2 separate regions of the Homo sapiens genome follow, and region 1 is linked to region 2. The links come from fine-mapping of genetic effects on plasma protein levels. Region 2 holds a variant in brackets. A gene starts in the other region. All regions are shown on one strand. Distances are from middle to middle.

Region 1 (9,896 bases), 28 Mb before region 2:
GGATGGCTGGAAAATTCAAGGTTGGGCATATGCATTAGGTGATGGCTACAGGCTGCTTCCACTCATGGTGGAAGATGAAGGAGAGCCAGTGAGTGCAGAGATAACATGATGAGAAATGAAGCAAGGAGGTGGGGAGGTGCCAGGTTCTTTTTAACAACTAGTTTTTGGAGAGTGAGAATTTATTCACTTCTGAGGGAGGGCATCAATCTATTACTCATGAGGGATCTACTGCCATGACCCAACACTTCCCATTAGGCCCCACTTCTAACACTGGATCAAATTTCAGCATGAGGTTTAGAGGGGACAAACATCCAAACTATAGCACCCATTTTATAAAAAACACCTCCATACTAAAACTAAAACTAACCCCTCTTTGACTCTCTATCCATAGTTTTCAATGTGTGATCTGAAGAGCTTCTGTATCAGAATCACCTGGATGCTTGTTTAAAACACAGAGTTCCAGACTCCACTCGGCTATAGTAAGACATATTGGTGCTCCTGTACCTACATTCTAACAAATAAGCCAAGTGATTATGATGTACCATAAAGTTGGAGAAAACTGTTCTCTATTGGGCTCTCCATGGTACCTGGCAAACCTCTGGCTACCTAGCTGTGACCCTCTCTCTTGTGTATACTGTGGGTATTTTACTTTCTCACATTCCTCAAATTGTCAGGAGCACCAATCACCACCCCTCTAACTCATACTCTGATTTTGCAGAAAAAAAAAAAAACAAAGAAAAAAGCCCCATGAATCTCCATGCCATGAATGTATTTCACCCATGCCTATTCTTTCTTATTCCCCTCCTATAAACATGGAAAATACATACTTTTTCTTTCTGAAGCTAATTATGCCACTTAAGCTCATTTCTGATTTTATCCTGCCCTCCTAAGCACTTAATCAGATCTATTATCCTGTCTCTCCTTATCTGGAAACTTATTTCTATCAACATTTAAACATATATACAAGCTTCTCTCATCTTCAAAAGACAATTCTCCCTTAATTTCATGAATCAAACACCTCCAGCTACTGCATTTTTTCATTCCCTCTTCTCAGCTAAGCTTCTTAAAGATGTCTACACTTACTTCCCACTTGCATTCCATTTCTGCCCCATTATTGGATTAGGATTCCACTATTTCACTGAGACTGCTCTCACTTAACTAACAGAAGATTACTTTGTTGTTAAATCCATTGGACACTGGACCTTACATTACTTGGCTTCTCAGTTCCATTTGACACTATTGTCCATTCTCTTTTTTAAAAAAACCTTTTTTCTCTTGGCTTCCTTGATACCTAAGTACCTTATGATCTACATATTCAAAATTAACTTGGTCATTTCTGCTTAACCTCCTTCCCAGGTGCATGGCATCATCTGCAGGTTGTCCAAGCCAGAAACGTAGAGTAGTCATCCTTGACTCCTTCCTCCTTCTCACTTGTTAACTACCTCTTACATGTTTCATAGCTGGATTGCTGCAACAGCCTCCTAACGGTCCTTTCTCCAGTTTTGCTCCCATCCAATCCAGAGTAATACTCTGGAGGGAAAGATCATAGTTATACTGGCCACTAGATTCTAAATATTTTCTATAGGTAAGTTTGAAAATTAGGCACCAAGCTTCCTGACAACCAAGACAAAATTGAAGGAAAAGTAATCTTCATACTTCTTAATGCTTGTTCTAATTCTAACACTCTAAACCAAATTTCTCAGGAGGAGATTTATAAAGGAAGCAATAAATGATGTAATGAGCAATGGCTCAACAACATTCCTATGATATATCCTATAATTTCATTTGGCAAGTATTTATGGAGTACTTACTACAAGCCAGGCACTGTGCTCACCACTGGGGAAAAAAATGTGAATGTGGTTGTTTCTTATCTAATCTCATTATTAAAACTGAGTTTTTACATAATATTAAATGCAATCCTCTGAAGACAATTTGGCTGGGAAAGGGCTTATTTCCCGAGCCATCCCTGCCTGGTAGTTTAAAACCAGGGTCAAAATAACAGCTACTCAGTGTTCCCCTGCTTCCTGCAACCACCCTAACACCCCCACCCACACGGTCCTACCCTGGGTCAGGACTTCCAGTCTCTCTCTTTCTCTCTCTCTCTCTCTCTCTCTTTTTTTTTTTTTTTTTTTTTTTGAGATGGAATCTCACTTTGCCGCCCAGGCTGGAGGGCAGTGGTGCAATCTCGGCTCACTACAACCTCTGCCCCCAGGTTCAAGCGATTCTCCTGCCTCAGCCTCTCGAGTAGCTGGGATTACAGATGTGTGCCACCACACCCGGCTAATTTTTGTATTTTTGGTAGAGACAGCGTTTCACCATGTTGCCCAGGATGGTTTCAAACTCCTGACCTCAGGTGATCTGCCTGCTTTAGCCTCCCAAAGTGCTGGGATTACAGGCGTGAGCCACCGCGCCCGGCCCAGCCTCTTTTAAATTGCAGCTCACTGCCACTACTATCACACACAAAATACATCTGGACTCCCCATGGTTTGTCTCACATGTGTTGACAAACAGTGCTTTTAACAACCACATGAAATCAGCTATTTTCCACCCTCACTCTGGTTTCTTTTGGAGATCTGCTGCTAAGTTGTTCCCCACACTTCCCCACACTCCCCCTCCAACAGGACACATGAGCCCTGACAGGACCATTGCTGTATTAGTCCGTTTTCACACTGCTATAAAGATACTACAATTTATAAACAAAGGAGTAAATTTACTCACAGTTCTGCATGGCTGAGGACAGGGGGAGGCCTCAGGAAACTTATAATCATGGCAGAAGGGGAAGCAGGCACCTTTTTCACAAGTTGGCAGACCAGAGAGGAGAAAGAAGGAGGAATTTCCAAAAACTTATAAAACCATCAGATCTCCTGTGTGGAGAGAGAGATCCTTCTTTCTCTTCTTATAAAGCCATCAATCCTACTGGATTAGGACCTCACATTTATATCTTCACTTAACCAAAATTGCTACTGGAAAGGGGTCCTGATCCAGACTCCAAGAGAGAGTTCTTGGACCTCGGGCAAGAAAGAATTTGGGGCGAGTCCATAAAGTGAAAGCAAGTTTATTAGAGAAAAAGAGAAACAAAAGAATGGCTACTCCATAGACAGAGCAGGGGCATGGGCTGCTCAACTGAAAATACTTATGGTTATTTCTTAATTATATGCCAAACAAGGGGTGGATTATTCATGAATTTTCTGGGAAAGGAGTGGGATTTCCTGGAACTGAGGGTTCCTCCCCACTTTAGGCCATATAGGGTAACTGCTGGCCCCGACATTCGTAAATTGTCATAGTGCTGATGGGAGTGTCTTTTAGCATGCTAATGCATTATAATTAACGTAAAATGAGCAGTGAGTTTGACCATAGGTCACTTCCATCAACATCTTGCATTTGGTTGGTGTTGGCCAGCTTCTTTACCACTTCCTGTTTTATCAGCAGGGTCTTTTTGACTGGTTTCTTGTGATACCAGTCCTGCTGACCTCCCCCCTCATCCTGTGACTGAGAATGCCTAACCTCCTGGGAATGCAGCCCAGTAGGTCTCAGCCTCATTTTACCCAGCCGCTATTCAAGATGGAGTCACTATGGTTCAAATGCCTCTGACAGAATCACCTTCTAAAAGTCCTATGTCCAAATGCAGTCACTTAGTGGGTACGAATTTGGCGGGGGACACAACTGAGTCCATAGCAAACAGTATTCGATTTTTAATCACATCAGCACACACAATAAGACTCTGAAAAGTGAGTCCCTTGGCTGGGCTAGGGAGAAAATTGTGACAATATGTAGTGTTCCAAAATGACCCTCCTCCCTGCATCAGGGAGGGGAGCACTCAGAACCTTCCAGCTTGGTGAACAGAATTTGTTCTCAGGCCAGGAGCCATGCTCTGTAAGTATGTTGTCTTTACATCTGGCCCAGTTTGATCTTTGGAGATAGACACATAGTGGGTCCCAGATTGTGTCCTGTTGCAAAGATCTGGAAACACAGGCTTGGGATACCTGTATATCAACAGAAACCAGACTAGCAGGTGGTAAGGCTGGCATTGTTCTGTGTTCTTAGGTTTTTTTTTGTTTTTTTTTTGTAGACGGAGTCTTGCGCTGTTGCCCAAGCTGGAGTCGTGTGGCGCGATCTCGGCTCACTGCAAGCTCCGCCTCCCGGGTTCACGCCATTCTCCTGCCTCAGCCTCCTGAGTAGCTGGGACTACAGGTGCCCGCCACCACGCCTGGCTAATTTTTTTTTTTTTTTTTTTTTGTATTTTTAGTAGAGACGTGGTTTCACCGTGTTAGCCAGGATGGTCTCGATCTCCTGACCTCATGATCTACCCGCCTCGGCCTCCCAAAGTGCTGGGATTACAGGCGTGAGCCATGGCGCCTCTTAGGTTCTTAATCACTGGGACACCCACAGGCAAGGCCTGGCTTTTTCCACAAGAAGTATTCTGGATGGAAGTAAACACATCAGTGACCTGAAAGTTCTACATGATTACAATGACTTAAGCTTGAGAATTTTTTTAAAAACAGAGAAGGGAGTAGTAAATGACTAAATATAAAGCACCTAGTGCTGTGTTTCGCAAATGGCAATCACTCGGCAGGTGTCTCAGCTCCTCGCTGCAGCAACCAGGCTTCCAGGACTGGAAGGAAGTCTTCTACATTCAAAACTAGACTCAAACTACTCCCCTCCACCACCCAGTTCTACTCCTGCGCTCGCGATCCTCCTGCCTGGCAAACTCCATGGCCCGACAGATTCACTACCACTCCACTGCCGGACCAGGCACGTCCGTGGGCCATCCACGCCTGGAAAACGGCTGGCTGGGCCGGAGGGGCGAGGCCCGCAGGCGAGGGGGGCGGGTACAAGCCACTTCTTGGGAGCCGCGGTACGCGCAGCCTTGTGGGAGTTGTAGTTTCCGCAGCTCTGAGTCTCCAGGCGAGGTGTCACCACAGGACTCGTTTTCCCGTGCTCCTGTGCGCGGGTCCACTTGGGACGGGTCCCTGAGTAGGTGAGGAGGTGGGTAGGAGCTTGCTTATAGAAAAGTGGAATCGAGTAGTCCTTGCTGGTGGAGCCGCTGCCGCCAGGGAACTCAGGGCCGGCTCCTGTTCCTTCAAGAGTGCTGGAGGCCAAACTTGAAATACAAGTTTAATGTTCCTCGTCGGGCAAAAGATAAGGATCCGATCTCCCCCGGCCCGGTGTGCAGCAGGAGCGACCAACCCCGACCCGGGTTAAAACTCCCAGGGACTCTTCGCTGCTGCCACCTCTTGTTCTCTCCCCCGTTCCCACTCGGGGTCTCCCTCAGGGCCGGGAGGCACAGCGGTCCCTGCTTGCTGAAGGGCTGGATGTACGCATCCGCAGGTTCCCGCGGACTTGGGGGCGCCCGCTGAGCCCCGGCGCCCGCAGAAGACTTGTGTTTGCCTCCTGCAGCCTCAACCCGGAGGGCAGCGAGGGCCTACCACCATGATCACTGGTGTGTTCAGCATGCGCTTGTGGACCCCAGTGGGCGTCCTGACCTCGCTGGCGTACTGCCTGCACCAGCGGCGGGTGGCCCTGGCCGAGCTGCAGGAGGCCGATGGCCAGTGTCCGGTCGACCGCAGCCTGCTGAAGTTGAAAATGGTGCAGGTCGTGTTTCGACACGGGGCTCGGAGTCCTCTCAAGCCGCTCCCGCTGGAGGAGCAGGTGAGAGGTCGGCCCGGGCTGGGGCTGGTGGGGCGAGGACCGTGTGCCAGGCCAGGAGTCTCGCCCTGACACACATCTTCAGAGCTTTACTCGCGCGGAGCGGGGCTCGGGTTGGGTCCAGAAGAAGGGAAAACAGCAGTAGCCAGTGACTCCCCAGGCTCTTGAGCAAAGGACCTGCTGGGGTTAGGACAGCCCCGGAACTTCCAGTTTTGCCCTGATGGCGCAGCCATCAGTAAGCGCTGCTTAAGACGCATGGGAGTCGCCTGGGGATCCTGCTACGTTGCAGATTCTGATTCAGCAGGTGTGGAGTAGTGCCCCAGGTCAGCATTTCTATTAAGGGTCTAGGTGAACTTGAATACAAGGGTGCAGTGCACTTCTGTGTGACCATTTTGAAGGTGGTTTGTCAGAGCTGAAGGGCTGAAGGGACTTTAGTGATAGGAACCACTCTTAACTGAGATTACAGTGGATAAGAGGTCGTTGCCTTTGGAAACAAACTTTATAACTGCTTTTTCTCAGGGTTTGCTGGAGGCCATTTGAGATCTCCTGAAGTTTTTTTTTGTAACAAGTGTTGTATTCTAGGGTTCTCCTTTTCTATTTAAGGTTACTAAACCTATAGTGGGAGGGATCTGAGGTCGGAACAAATTTAAAATGGGCTAGTCTGTGGCAGTAATGTTTTAAAAATCTGTCTGGTTTTGTCAGGATAATTATGACTAAAGCACAAATAGTTTAAAAAAAAATGATTATCTTTCCTGGATGTGACTTTTTATAGCAGAAAGGCCTAGTGAAGAGGAACAGGCAACCTGAAATCCCCAAACTCCCAGGTATTACACCTGTGGAGTGCTTTTGTATCGTTGGTCTTCCAGGTTGATGTTGGAGGAGGTCGAAAAGATTGTCCAAAATTGATGTTAGGTATACTCTTCATAATAACAGTTGCTTTCTAGAAACCTTCAGGATTGTGTCTTTACATTGTACAACTGGAAACCCATTTTTCAAGGTTGGCCGCACATGAAATTAAACTTCTAAAGCATTTTCCACATAAATAAATACATTTGGAAGGCACTTAATTCTATTACCAGGTTTCTAGTTAGCCTTACTCTGGCTTTACCACTTGCTCTCTGGAACCGGGATTTCTTCTTTCATTTTGATTCTTTGATTTTTTTTTCAGTCTCTTACTTTGCCTTTTTATATTAGATCACTAAATTTTCCTTATGATTTTGTATACAGCCCATCTCTGATGCTCCCCTTCCCCCAATTCTTCTCTATTTATTCTTGGTACAGAAGGACTGGGGAATCACATGTAGGAATATATATTATATTCACGTAGAAGACAAAAAATTATCAGTGGTAATGGAGAGTAAAACTTTGAATGTGTAGGCCTAGACCTAGTATGTACCATATATATATATATATATATCCTGAAGGCACTAGGAAAAGATTTAGATTCTTTTAGGGCTTTATCCCTAAGGGAGAGTGGGTGTGTGATGGATATCTTCTGCCTTTATGGTTGAAAGGTCCGTTGTAGCTTAGGATACCAGCTTCATTCATCTTCAATCTGTGTAGCCACAAAATAGCATCTGAATCCATGGCCTGACTTTGCAATTAGAGAAGGCATATTACCTCTCCTTTCTGCTCATATTCTCCAGACTTTAGACAGATGCTTTAAACGTCTTCGGCTCTCTAGTATAAAGTTGTGTGCATGAAAATCAGGGGTGAACCAACTCTCTTTCAATTTAGGCTATGAGCAAATATTAGCCTCTTAAAACTTGTTTCTGGATAGTCTCTGTCCAGTGTTCATTTCAAGATCCAATTTGATAGAGGTTGTTATTGGGATTTTTTTTTTTGAGACAGAATCTTGTTCTGTTGCAAGGCTGGAGTGCAGTGACGCGATCTCGGCTCACCGCAACCTCCGCCTCTCGGGTTTAAGCAATTCTCTTGCCTCAGCCTCCCGAGTAGCTGAGACTATAGGTGCACACCACCAGGCCCGACTAATTTTTGTATTTTTACTAGAGACGAGGTTTCATCATGTTGGCCAGGATGGTCTCGATATCTTGATCTCATGATCCGCCTGCTTCAAGTCTCCCAAAGTGCTGGGATTACAGGCGTGAGCCAGCACCCGGCCGTTATTGGGATTTTTTAATCTTCTTGGTTCTGCTATTAATTATAGTCAGAAGGGACTGCCTGGCAAAAATTTTTTGTCTTTGGTACATGTTTCCTGATTTCTGACTGGTTTATAGATTAATATATGTGACAAGTCACTTCATTCAGCCATCTCACAAATTCTCAGAAAGTAGCATGATTTAAAACTAGATGTTTTGGCTGGGTGTGGTGGCTCATGCCTGTAATCCCAGCACTTTGGGAGGCTGAGGCAGGTGGATCAAGAGGTCAGGAGTTCGAGATCAGCCCGGCCAAAATGGTGAAACCCCATCTCTACTAAAAATACAAAAATTAGCCCGGTGTGGTGGTGGGCGCCTGTAATCCCAGCTACTCGGGAGGCTGAGGCAGGAGAATTGCTTGAACCCGGGAGGCGGAGGTTGCAGTGAGCCAAGATTGGGTCACTGCACTCTACCCTGGGTGATAGAGCAAGACTCCATCTCAAAAACAAAAACAAAAAACTAGTGTTTTATTGGGTTGTTTTCTTATGGCTTGAATGGCTGTTGGTTTAACCTGTTTTGCTAAAAGATTGTGCTTTGGAAATAAAAATATAGAACTTGATTGGCCATTTTTTTTCCTGATCATTAGAGCAGATCCAAATGCACTATCAAAAGAAAAGATTTGGCACTGCTTCCAGGCTTCCCTCAACTCCCCTGGGTGTCAAGATGGCCTCCACCCAGGGAGATTCCTCAGTTTTTATAAAATAAAGTCCAACCTACCCCAGCTTCACTGTTGATTAAGACATTTGGGTCCCTATTTATTTGACAATATAGATGAGCTGGGAAGCATAATGTAAGAATCTTTTATTGCTTAGTACCTTTCCAAAACTCAGCTAAAAGAAGCGGTATTCAAGAAGCATTACATGAGGTCCACCCATTCTTCAGGATCGATGGTTCTTAACCGTGGTGAACATTGGAGTCAACTGGAAAGCTTTAAAAAATACACATGCCAGGGTCTCCCTCCGAAGGATTCTAATTTAATTGGTCCGGGGTATCCAGATAATGTAAAAGACTCTCTGGTGAAGCTTGAGAATTATCTGGACTGAAGAGCATTAAAAAAGTGGAGGCCCCACTTTTTTGGGGGATAATCCAAATGCGGTTATCCCAGGTTGGGACTCAGGCATCAGTAACTTTTAAAAAATGTCCTGGTAATACCAGTATACAGACAAGGTTTAATATGATTGCTTTATTTTAAAATCTACACCTGGGAGGTTTTTGTTTACTTTTATGTAGATTTGTTCTTTTACCTGGAATGTAGTATATCAATCCCAGTACAGAATTGCCTTCGCTGAAATGTGCTTTGGTAAGAGGTTATCTTTCTGTGTTGAGAGAACTAGGAGAAACAATCCCACAGAACTCATTGCTGTGACTGCTGAAAAGATGTTCATTATATTACTCTATCCTCTTTATGAGGACCCTTGGGAGGAATTTGTCTGTTAGCATTAGGAATGGTGTGCTTCTCCTGAACAATTGGCTTGCTTTTTTCTTTAAACTAGTCTAGCTGATCAAGTTTGTTTCTTTATGTAAAAGTCAGGAAGCTGGGTGCCAAGTCTGTGGCCCACCTATAGTAAGTAAACAGATCTTCATGGTGTACATATTTTAGTAACCGTGTTACTGCATCCATTTCTTTGTCCCTACATTTGTTTGCTTTTGTCTTTCTTGCCTACTTTGAATTGGTTGTCTTACTATATTTTAATTTTTGCTATATCTACTTTATTACCCCTTGAAGAGGGGTATACACAAAATAAGTAAAATTATCAAGTTAGTCTTTGCCACTAACTGGGAAGCTTAAGAGCAGGAATGAGAATGAGAGTGTGTATGTGGGGTGGACACTATTATATGAAACTGATGTATCATCCATTCTTGAAAATCTGAAAACTGTACTTTAGACTTGACGTGACCTGGACTCCAGACTCCTAGGAGACGCCAAGGGTCCTCTCTTGGTGAATGTGCCTAACAGATTTCTTAGTGAGGCTGAATGGCCCTGTGGAGCTTTGTGTCAGGCCCTGTGGTGGACACTGGAACTACAAGGATGGATAATTCAGTCTTGCCTTTAAAGGAGTTTCAATGTGATAAAGCAGAGACAACAGATATCAA
Region 2 (9,655 bases):
TCATCAAATTCTTAGACATTGTTCCTTTGTGTCTTCTGGTTACTATTCTAGGGAAATGCAATGCCAGTTGAGTGTTTCTTCTTTTTCATAAGTAACACTGGGCTCCCTGCCTTCTTTTTCATTTGTTGTAGAGTTGTCAGGAAAACCTATTATCTTTGCAATTAGGTCTTCATTCTTTCTTCTGCAAAGCTAAAATCTCTCTTGATTTTTAATCTGTTCATTTTTTGTTTTGTGTTCTGTGAGAGCTCTCTTAAGGTTCTTCTTTATAACACTGACTTATATTTCTTCATTGTCAGGTCAGTCCTTTATAGCTTCTTCTGCCTGCCTCTCAGCCCCTTTGATCAGAGACTAATGTCCTATATTATTTTTTATTTCTTTGTAGAACGTAAACATGTCTAAATGTCTTGAGTGTACAGGAGCAGTTCTTTCTAAAATGTATTAGCTCCTGTAAGTGAATAATTTTCCCAGTGTGCTTTTCATCAATATCTTAAGCATTACATTCTCCATGTTTTATGTTGTAGAATCTTTTAATAGGTGCCATGTTGTTTTTTTCCATTTTACTCATTCTGAGCAGAGTAACTGCCTGCCCATAGACAGGGGAGGTGGGTGTTCCCCTGGATCCCCTCACTCTCAACCTGGCTGCAGCTAGTTTTTCCTCCTGGTGCAGTGAGGGGCTTTTATGTAAACTGGCTCAACAACCCAGCAGCCTAAGGTGGGGAGAGCCAGAGAGTGGGGCCTCCTAGCAGGAGACCAAAGCTTGGCACCACTTTCTTCTCTGTGGCGGGGGTCAGCTTTCTGAATGCCCAGTACTGGCCCAGCCTCCATGGCAATCCACCCAGTGGCTGAGCCTGGATGCTTTTCAGTGCTGCTGCCTCCGGAATCTGCCCCAGATGCACTGCAGTATTTCTCATTGCTATAGTGGCCAATAGTGGCCACAGGAGCCTGGACTCTGCAGTTCTTGAAGTTTTTGTTGACCTGGAGGGGTGAGGTGGAGTTCAGTCCATTCTCCTCACTGCAGCAGAGTGGACTTTCTGAAACATGCATTGGATCGAGTCATTTCTTTGCTGGAAACACTTCAATGGGTCCTCCTTGTCTTTGGATTTAGTCCCAAGGCTGTGCATGTAACTCCCTCTCCAGCCACACCTCTCTTCACTCCCCTAATGCATTTCTTATAATTCAACCACAAGAATTTTTTTTCATTGCCGCAAATGAACCATGCTGTCTCTTCAACTCAAGCCTATGCTTTCTGCCTGAAATACTCCGCACTCCACCCTTTCTCTACACACTCCCTCACACACTTCTCCCCTCTTTCACAACCTGGCACGCTCCTCCCAGGCCTTCTCTTAAAAGTTACATTCTCTAGTTCCTCTCTATTCTCCCTACTCTGTACTCCCAAGGCAATAGGTATCTATGAAAGCACCTGTCACTCTGTGTCATCATTGTTTGTTTGGTTATAAGTCTGCTGTTTGTAAGTTCTGCAGGCAGAAGCCATGGCTGTTTTGTTCACCATTATAATCCCATTGTGTATAGTCAGAGCCTGGCACATTGTGTTTGTGTGCGTGTGTGTGTATGTGTACATATATATATTTTAGATAAACGAATGAATGAATTACAGCATTAAATTTTCCAGTTGTTCCCAGCCCAACCTCATCTCCAAATTCACAGCTCTTCTTACCTTTCTAAGATACTTTAGTATTTTTCTTCAGTGTGTACCGAGTTTGTACTAAATCTGTAAAATTAGACTAATTATATATGAAGACTATAGTTGACAATCAATGTAAAGCACATATCATCTGGAACCTAGAAATAACTCAGTGCATATGTTTTTACTGCTGAGGTTAGTAGTGACGTTGGGGAATAAAAAGAAAACCCGCTCTTTCTCCCCTAGTTTCCTGTCAGTGGCAGTGTTTAGAAGAGGAGGACTGCAGGAGCTCTACCGCAGAGGGCTGACTGGGCTGGTGTGTTTAGGGAAAACTCAGGTTTCAGTCAAAGAAGGAAGTTGTACACCTTAATGTAGAGTTGCCCTTGAGGCGTAGTTGAAGGATTAGTGGGCAAAGGCAAGGTGAATCTGGGTGTGATACAAATGAGATAGAGTTCAGTGACACAGGAAGGGGACTGGGATGAGGGGTTTGCGTGTGAACTGGTGGTGTAGACAAGGGTGACGGACACTTTGGGTAGGAACAGAATAGAGATACTGTTGCTATGAGAAGGGTGAGTTGAAAGATAATTATTATTTTGGGATTAGGATAACTTAAATAAGAGAACCTTAAGCAGATAAACATTCATTTAACGAATATTTATTTAAGCTTGGGATTGTGTTTCATGCTGGGGATTCAGTGATGAGGTAAACAGCTACCCCCCATTTCTTCATGGCACTGACAGTCTAGTGAGAAACACAGGCATAGACAATATAATTCTCCATAAAATTTTGAACTGTACTAAATGCCTTGCAGGAAACATAGAATGTATCTGGAGAGCATATTAATAGGCAGAACTAATTGTGTTTAGTGACAAGCAAGTAAGGTCTCTTTGAGAAAGTAACATTTTCCATATAGACAATGAGTAGGAGTTGGGGAGAGTGAGGATAAGACTATCCCAGGCACAAGGAATAACGTGTGCTAGCCACTGAGGAGGGAAAGAATGTGATCATTTTGAGAAATGAAAAAAGCCCAGAGTGGCTGGAGCTAGTGATATTTCATGGTTAGAGCCTAAAGAGATAGGCAGAAAACACTGGTAGGTGTTAGAATTTTATCCTAAATGCAAAATAATTCATCAAAGGATTTGAACAAGCGAGTGGCGCATTCTACTTTACATGTTAAGATCATCCTGGCGGCTCTTTAGAAAATACATTGGTCATGATGCAGGGAAACCAGGCCTTTGAGAAGTCCTGAAAAAGATGATGCTGTCTAGAATTAGTGGAGGAATTTCTTGCATTTATTCTGTGTATGAATATCCTTTCCACAACTACATTATCCCCTTAGCCACATCTATACTCCCAGACCATCCTCTCAGTAGGCAGGCCCTGTAGACAGCAGTGTTTATACAGAATGTTTCACCCAACTTTATTCCGAGCAGGTGATGGGACACTCAAGCTTGTTCTTTGTTCTTCAGCTCCAACTTCAGCAGCGTGATAGAAAGTCTCCTGTGTATGGAGCTGAGGTTTTGTAGGATAGAAGTCCCAGGAATGATCTGCTCTGACACAGAAAGAGATGAAACTCCAGAACTCAGGGGCTTGGGTGACTGCTGGTTGGAAAGGTATATAGGAGATGGAGCTCTCTTGACTCAGCCATAGAGGAGAAGGTAGCAGACTCAGTGCAAGGGCCAGCCAAGCTCATTTTTTATTTGTTCCTCTTGTGGAGATTGTTGTTGCAATGAGAGTTGACCCTTAACTGGACCAGTAATGTGATCAGACTTTTTCCCACAGACTTCACAGTTGAGAGATGACTGGAAAGGATGAGAGTCGAGGCTCAGCACCTTACTTTTTTCAATTCCTTTCTCTTCTTTTCTTTCTTTCTCTTGTTGTCCCCCTCTATTTTTTACCCATCACTTGTAGCTCCAAATCAGATTAGTGGTTTGTGGGTGGGGCCCTTGCCTTGAGAGAGCCATAATGAGCTGTTTGTGTCCCTGCGTGTTACAGCTCATAAATGCTGACTGTTTCATGGTCTTTGGCTCACTTGGCTGAAGCGTGGTGCTAATGAGGCCCAGGCCATGGTTTCTATTTCAGCACAGACCTCTTAGGTTCACCCTGTTATATTTACTGCCACAGGCTGTGTCCATAATTTTTTTTTTTTTTTTTTTTTGAGATGGAGTCTTGCTCTGTCGCCAGGCTGGAGTGCAGTGGCACGATCTCAGATCACTGCCACCTCCGCCTCCTGGATTCAAGCGATTCTCCTGCCTCAGCCTCCCAAGTAGCTGGGACTACAGGCATGCACCATCATGCCCAGTTAATTTTTGTATTTTTAGTAAAGACGGGGTTTCACCATGTTGGCCAGGATGGTCTCAATCCCTTGACCTCGTGATCCACCTGCCTCAGCCTTCCAAAGTGCTGGAATTATAGGCGTGAGCCACCACGCCTGGCTGACTGTGCCCATAATCTTACTTGTTCAGCCTGAAGCCAGAGGATGGAGCAACAAGAAAAGATCAGCATGGAGGTGACCCTACTCCTGCAAAACCAAAACAGTATACTTCCTTTGCTAATGGTGGCTTGGTAATGCCATGTCATCTTCACTTGTAGCACTCTGAGTTTCTTCCTCTTTCCCTACATCCCTCAACAGTCAGCTCAGATTGGCCTTCTTTATTTTGAAAACTAACTTGATCTGCAGCAATCTCACACCCCAAAGTCTTTATCAGCACTGAGCTATTTTCACTTCTAATTATTTTGCCAACTAACTGTGCAAAGTTGGGCAAGTTGCTATACCTCTCAGGTCCTAGTTTCCTCATCTGTAAAATGAGCATGTTAGATTAGATGCTGTCCAAGGTCAGTTCCACCACTGACACCAAGTGTCTAGTACAGTGGCTGGCATAGATACTGAGGTGAATGGCAGACACAGTCCCTGCCCTCCTGGAGCTTATAGCGAAATGGGGAAGAGACTGTAAAGAGTAAATAAATATGAAATCACAGCTCGTGATACATTCCAGGATGGATTGAATGGAATGATGCAATGGTGGAGAATCATGAGGAGATGTGCATTTGGAGACCTACTCTATTGATAAGACAGGTACCTCGCCATGTGAATAAGCAGGGAAAAAATGTTTCAGGTGGACAGAGCAGCTTATGCAGCAGCACTGAGGCAGGAGAGAACTTAATGTTTGAGGAATCAACAAAAGTTATTGTGGTTAGTATAAACTGTACAAAGGAGAGGTGTAGATTTGAGTATATTTACGAGGCAAAAGTGATCAACCAGAAAATTGTCAGTAGTTACAGGTGGCACTCAGTGTTTAAGGTATCAGCCAAGGATATGCTAGTTTGACATTTCATTTCAGATTATTCCAGAGTCATTGTGGCATTAGAGAGGGTAGTTTTTAAAAACAAGTTATCTTCTTTCTCTTTTGCCCATAGGAAATAAGAGCCTAACTAGTCCACTGCCTCAGTCCTGATGTTAAAAAAATGACAGTAGCCTGCAATATCTGGCAGGTGGAAATTACTGAGAGGGATAATTATTGCTCTTGAAAACTTGCCTAACTGAGCTTTGTGCAACATTTTGGGAGTTCACCAGCAAAGTTTGTGTGTTGACACAGGTGATGATACATGCTGACACTTGTTTGTATTGAAGATTTAGTAGCTTGGTAGGACATGGAAACAATACAGCTCTCCTGTTTCACCAAAGGCTTTTATTTGCTAGGTAGCCTATAACTTAGTGCTCTCTCCTGCTTTCCCTACTAACATAAAGTCATTTGCTTTTAATCCCTTCTATGTTCTATTGGCCAACTTACCTTCAAACACAGTATCGATCATGTCTTTCCTCATCCTCCTTTACTTGTTGTATCAAGTTCCGAATTCATACTCGAAGTCAAAGCCTCAATGACCTCCCACTTTTTCTTCTTCTAAAACCCCAGCCAAAGAATACACTGCAGTTATTTTAATATGTTTAAGACTTAATCCTGTATTCCTCTGTAAATCTTCAACCACCAGCCCAGGCTGGTGCTTTCTTGCACCAGTGGGATAAGCTCAATGACCGTAGAGCATACACGTTAAGACCTCTAGGTGATCGCCAAGAACTTTTCCCACTCAAATATCTAGTGACCTTCTGCCTTTATTCCTTTCTAATACGAGTGTTCCTTAACTGTCTTATGCACCTATGCCTTCTCAGGGTGCTGTAAGACCCTGGGATCAGCGACCTCATCTGTAGATTGTGTTGATCACATCCAGGGCTGAATACTCAACTCTGCTGCAGTCAAAGAGCATCAGATTTGCAGTCAGATCAATCCGGGTTTCAATGCAGCACTCTCACTCACCAACCGTGTGAACTTTGGAAGATTTTATTTCCTTTTTTTTACCTTCCTGAACCTGAAGTTTTTTATTTTTAGTCTTTAGCATTGGTTTTCTCCTGTGCCAGGAGGGTGGTGACGTGAAGGGAGTTGTTATATCATAGCAGATGTTCCACTGGGAATTTTAGAATAAGCAAGTTTTATGGCCACCCTGGTTACTGTTTTTCCTATTCTGAATTTTAGAACCAGTTGATAGAATTTTAATAGGGAGAAAATAATCTGGCAGAAATAGGACTAGGAGGAAATGTGAATTTGTAGAAATGTGCCTGAACCTTAGAGAAGTGTGATCCATCCAGTAGCTAATTACTTATAAGCCACTATCTTCTTGGATCTCTAAATTTCCTGTCCCTAACAAGCACTATCGAACAGATGCATGGTCCAAAGGTGTTCAGTGAAGGCAGCTAATCTTCAAAATTCAGTCTCATTCAAAAATCAGTGGACTGTACCTAAAAATACATTTCCCTTTTAGACAGGAGTTTGCAGTCACAAGTGTTTCCAGTAACCAATTGTTTGAGTCATGATTTGAGTCCTCACCTCCTCCATCCTGTCCACTTCCCCATGTCTGTGTGCCCTTGGGAAGCCCGAGACATGCAGAGATGGCTTGATATGTTCAGGTTCTCACCTCAGGTCTTTGTTAAGAATTTTAGAGTGAGGCAGCTCCAGTTCAAATCTCAACTGTCCTTCACTCACTGGCTTACAAAGGCAAATTATTTTACCTCTTTGAGGCTGTTTCCTCAGATATAAATGAGACAATTTTTATGGGAGCCCAAGCACAGTGCTTGCTTCTCAGTAGGCAGTCAATGGCTACTGGTTTCCTCTCCCAAGAGTGCCACATTTCCTTTCCTTTATTTACCTAGTTTGTCTTGCTACATTATTTCAGTGTCTGTTTATTATGGTGCATAAGAAATGTATACAAAATAGCTTTAAACACATTGTGTCTTATAGTACCCAAAATTATCACAAAGCCTCAATAAAGAAAAATGACATCTAAATTGTTCACATTCAGCAAGTCAGTTTGGTTGGTGGGCAGTGGATATTTGAGTTAGC[A/G]TAAGTATAATAGATGAGACTCAGCAATTTTCATGTTGCAGTAGCTCTTCACCTACTTCTTGGTCATGTTTTCATTTCTCAATCCCACCTGCATCCTAATAACACAGCTGTCATTACTTTGAGGTACCATTTCTGCTAGCACTATAAGACAGCAAAGTTTCTGTAATAAATGACATCATCTACCCTGAGGGAGATTATTGCCGGTGAGCTCACTCCCTCCCTCCTTCACTCTCTGATTCCTTCACTCACTCACTGACTCCCTCCCTCCCTCCCTTTCTTACCTTCCTCCCTCCCTTTCTCACCTCCCTCCATCTTTTACTCTCTCACGCATTCCCTCCCTCGCTCACTCACTCCTTGCAATCACTCCCTCACTCACTACCTCAGTGTTCTCACTTTCTTATTCATCTTCTCCCTTCCTTCCTCCCTCATTTCCCTCATTACCCTCATTACCTCCCCCATTCACTCCCTCATCCCTCACTCACTCTTTCTGTATTAATACTTTGGGATGCAGTTGACACAGCCTCGTTTCAAATTAGAAAGACCTGTTGCAAGAGGCATCTCTCAGAATGGCTATGCCACTGAGTAGGCTTACTAGTAGTTGGGCTTCAGTAGCAATTGGAACCAACAACTTGAATGCCACCATGTTTTTTTCTCTTTGTGCACATCTTTTCTATTTTTCTTTTTTTGAGACAGGGTCTTGCTCTATTGTCCAGACTGGGGTGCAGTGGCATGATCATGGCACAAGTGATTCTCCTACTTCAGCCTCCCAAGTAGTGCCTGCAGGCTGGTCTCTAACTTGTGGGCTCCAGTGATCTTCCTGTTTGGCCTCCCAAAATGTTGGGTTTACAGGTGTGAGCCACTGTGCCTGGCTCTCTGTGCACTTCTGATTCACCCATATCACTTTCTCTGCAGACCAGCCTCCTCATCTTTTTGGTCTATGTGGCAAAGTGGTCCTACTCCAATAATTTGGGAGAGATACAGTGATGTAGCTTGGATCAGATGCCCATCTTGGGTCAGTCAGCCATGGCCAGGAGGGTTTGATCATGTAAAGACATGGTTGCTCCTTCAAGAATTATATGGCTGGAGTTAGGAGAAGAGCATGGAAGGGTTATGCCGAGCACGGAGTTCCGGAGACATCCACATACCCATCCTGCCATCCTAGGCAGTTGGCTCTTGCTGGGAATACAAAAGAACCCCTCTAAACTGCAGCCAAGTAGTGGGAGACAGATGTGCAACCAAATAAGTGTGATAGAGTGATATTGGTTCTATAGTAATGGAGGTACATGTTAGATAGGAATAAAGAACAGGCAGTCAGTTAGGTTAAGTCAGACACAACTAGCATCCGCGAGTAATGATGGCTAACAGGCCTTCTACAGATACATGAGCCAGTCAAATTGCTAGGTATTCTGGGTCTAGAGATAGCCTTGGCATTTTCCAAGCACAAATATTGTGTTCTTTTTTTATTAGGAGGCCTCTTTATCAGAGTGCCTTTTAAAATTATTTGTTGAGTTTTATTTACAAAGGAAGAATGAAGGACACCTTGACATATTTTTATTTTCAACAACTTGTCATGTTTTAGAGAATTCGGATGATCTAAATTTTAGTTCCTTTGATAGCTCTCTAAACTGTTTTTAAAAGACCTCAAACAAAACCAATCACCACTTTATTTTATAGCTCATATGATCTGGCCCTATACTGTTTTTGTTAATCACAGATTCCTGGTTGTAAGTTGAAGACATTATCTTGTTCTTTGTTAAGGGATGTAGGAGCCTTTGCCTTAGTCTCCATTGTTGCTATAGTGGTGACCTGCAACCTAGCCAGATGTGGGCTCATGTTTAGCTTCCTTTAGTGTGATCTTTTTCAGGCAGTGCATACCAGTCCTTTTTCCATCTCCTAGTACATTGGGTGGACTTTCTTTGTCTTCTTCCACAAATCCCCATCCTTTAAGTATGGGTGCCTCAGGCTGAGCACAGCTTGCTCCAGTCTCATTATTCTTGGCCTTGCCCTTCACATCCATACTTCACCAGAGATTTTCAACATCTTTCATGTCTTCTCTGTACCCTATGTTGCTTGCCCTAACATTTTCAAAAATTAGACTTTTTATTTTCAGATACTTGTAGTTTTGTGCAGTTATAAGAATTAATATAGAAAGATTTCCTGTACCCTTTATCAAGGGTCTCCCAGTGGTAACATCATCTTATGGAACTGTTGCATAATATTACAACCAGTGTATTGACGTTGATACAGTCAAGATATAGAACAGTTACCCTAATGTTTGGCATATAGGTTCCTTCTCATTATTTTTTCTTACTCATTTTTATACTCTTCTCTCCTTGCTCTTCTTACTTATATGTTCATTGACCCAGGGATTAGTTAACTCGAGGGTCCTACAGGTTTTACCTTCTCTTTGATAAGTTGGCTAAACCCTAATGTTGTTAGAGTTTCTAACGGTAGTAACTATTCATCTTGAAACGATTTGCCTGGAAAAAATATCATTTAGATGGCTCAAATTGGCCTTAAAATTCATGTGAAGACCCAGCCTTCTGGAGCTCTGCTTGCCTTAATTTCAGACAGGTCACATGAAGATGAAGAGTGTGGGGGGCTGGTATGGTACTAGTCC

Direction of the effects. Alleles are on the strand shown, and positions count from the first base shown. The strength of an association depends on the size of the effect and on how common the allele is.
With allele G in place of A in region 2, the plasma level of the protein whose gene starts at base 4,955 in region 1 is lower (weak association).

Evidence for each region. PIP is the chance, under the fine-mapping model, that this variant and not a neighbour inherited with it causes the effect. The UK Biobank Pharma Proteomics Project read protein levels with antibody pairs (Olink). The fine-mapping took linkage between variants from a reference panel, not from the people measured, so its PIPs are less certain.
Region 1: it holds the start of ACP6, and the variant in region 2 is fine-mapped to the plasma level of the ACP6 protein (UK Biobank, PIP above 0.99).

What each region holds. Positions count from the first base shown.
Region 1 is chr1:147,665,583-147,675,478 of GRCh38, reverse strand. It overlaps ACP6 (acid phosphatase 6, lysophosphatidic), which reads left to right and starts at 4,955. Exons shown (of 10, transcript NM_016361.5): 1 at 4,955-5,649. The coding sequence starts at 5,431. RefSeq lists enhancers at 4,493-4,562, 5,003-5,252, 5,893-5,952, 5,164-6,107.
Region 2 is chr1:119,969,790-119,979,444 of GRCh38, reverse strand. All of the region lies in intron 5 of NOTCH2 (notch receptor 2), which reads left to right. Among named protein-coding and RNA genes, the nearest start is that of ADAM30, 78 kb to the right of the region's middle. The variant A/G (reference allele first, on the strand shown) is at 7,036.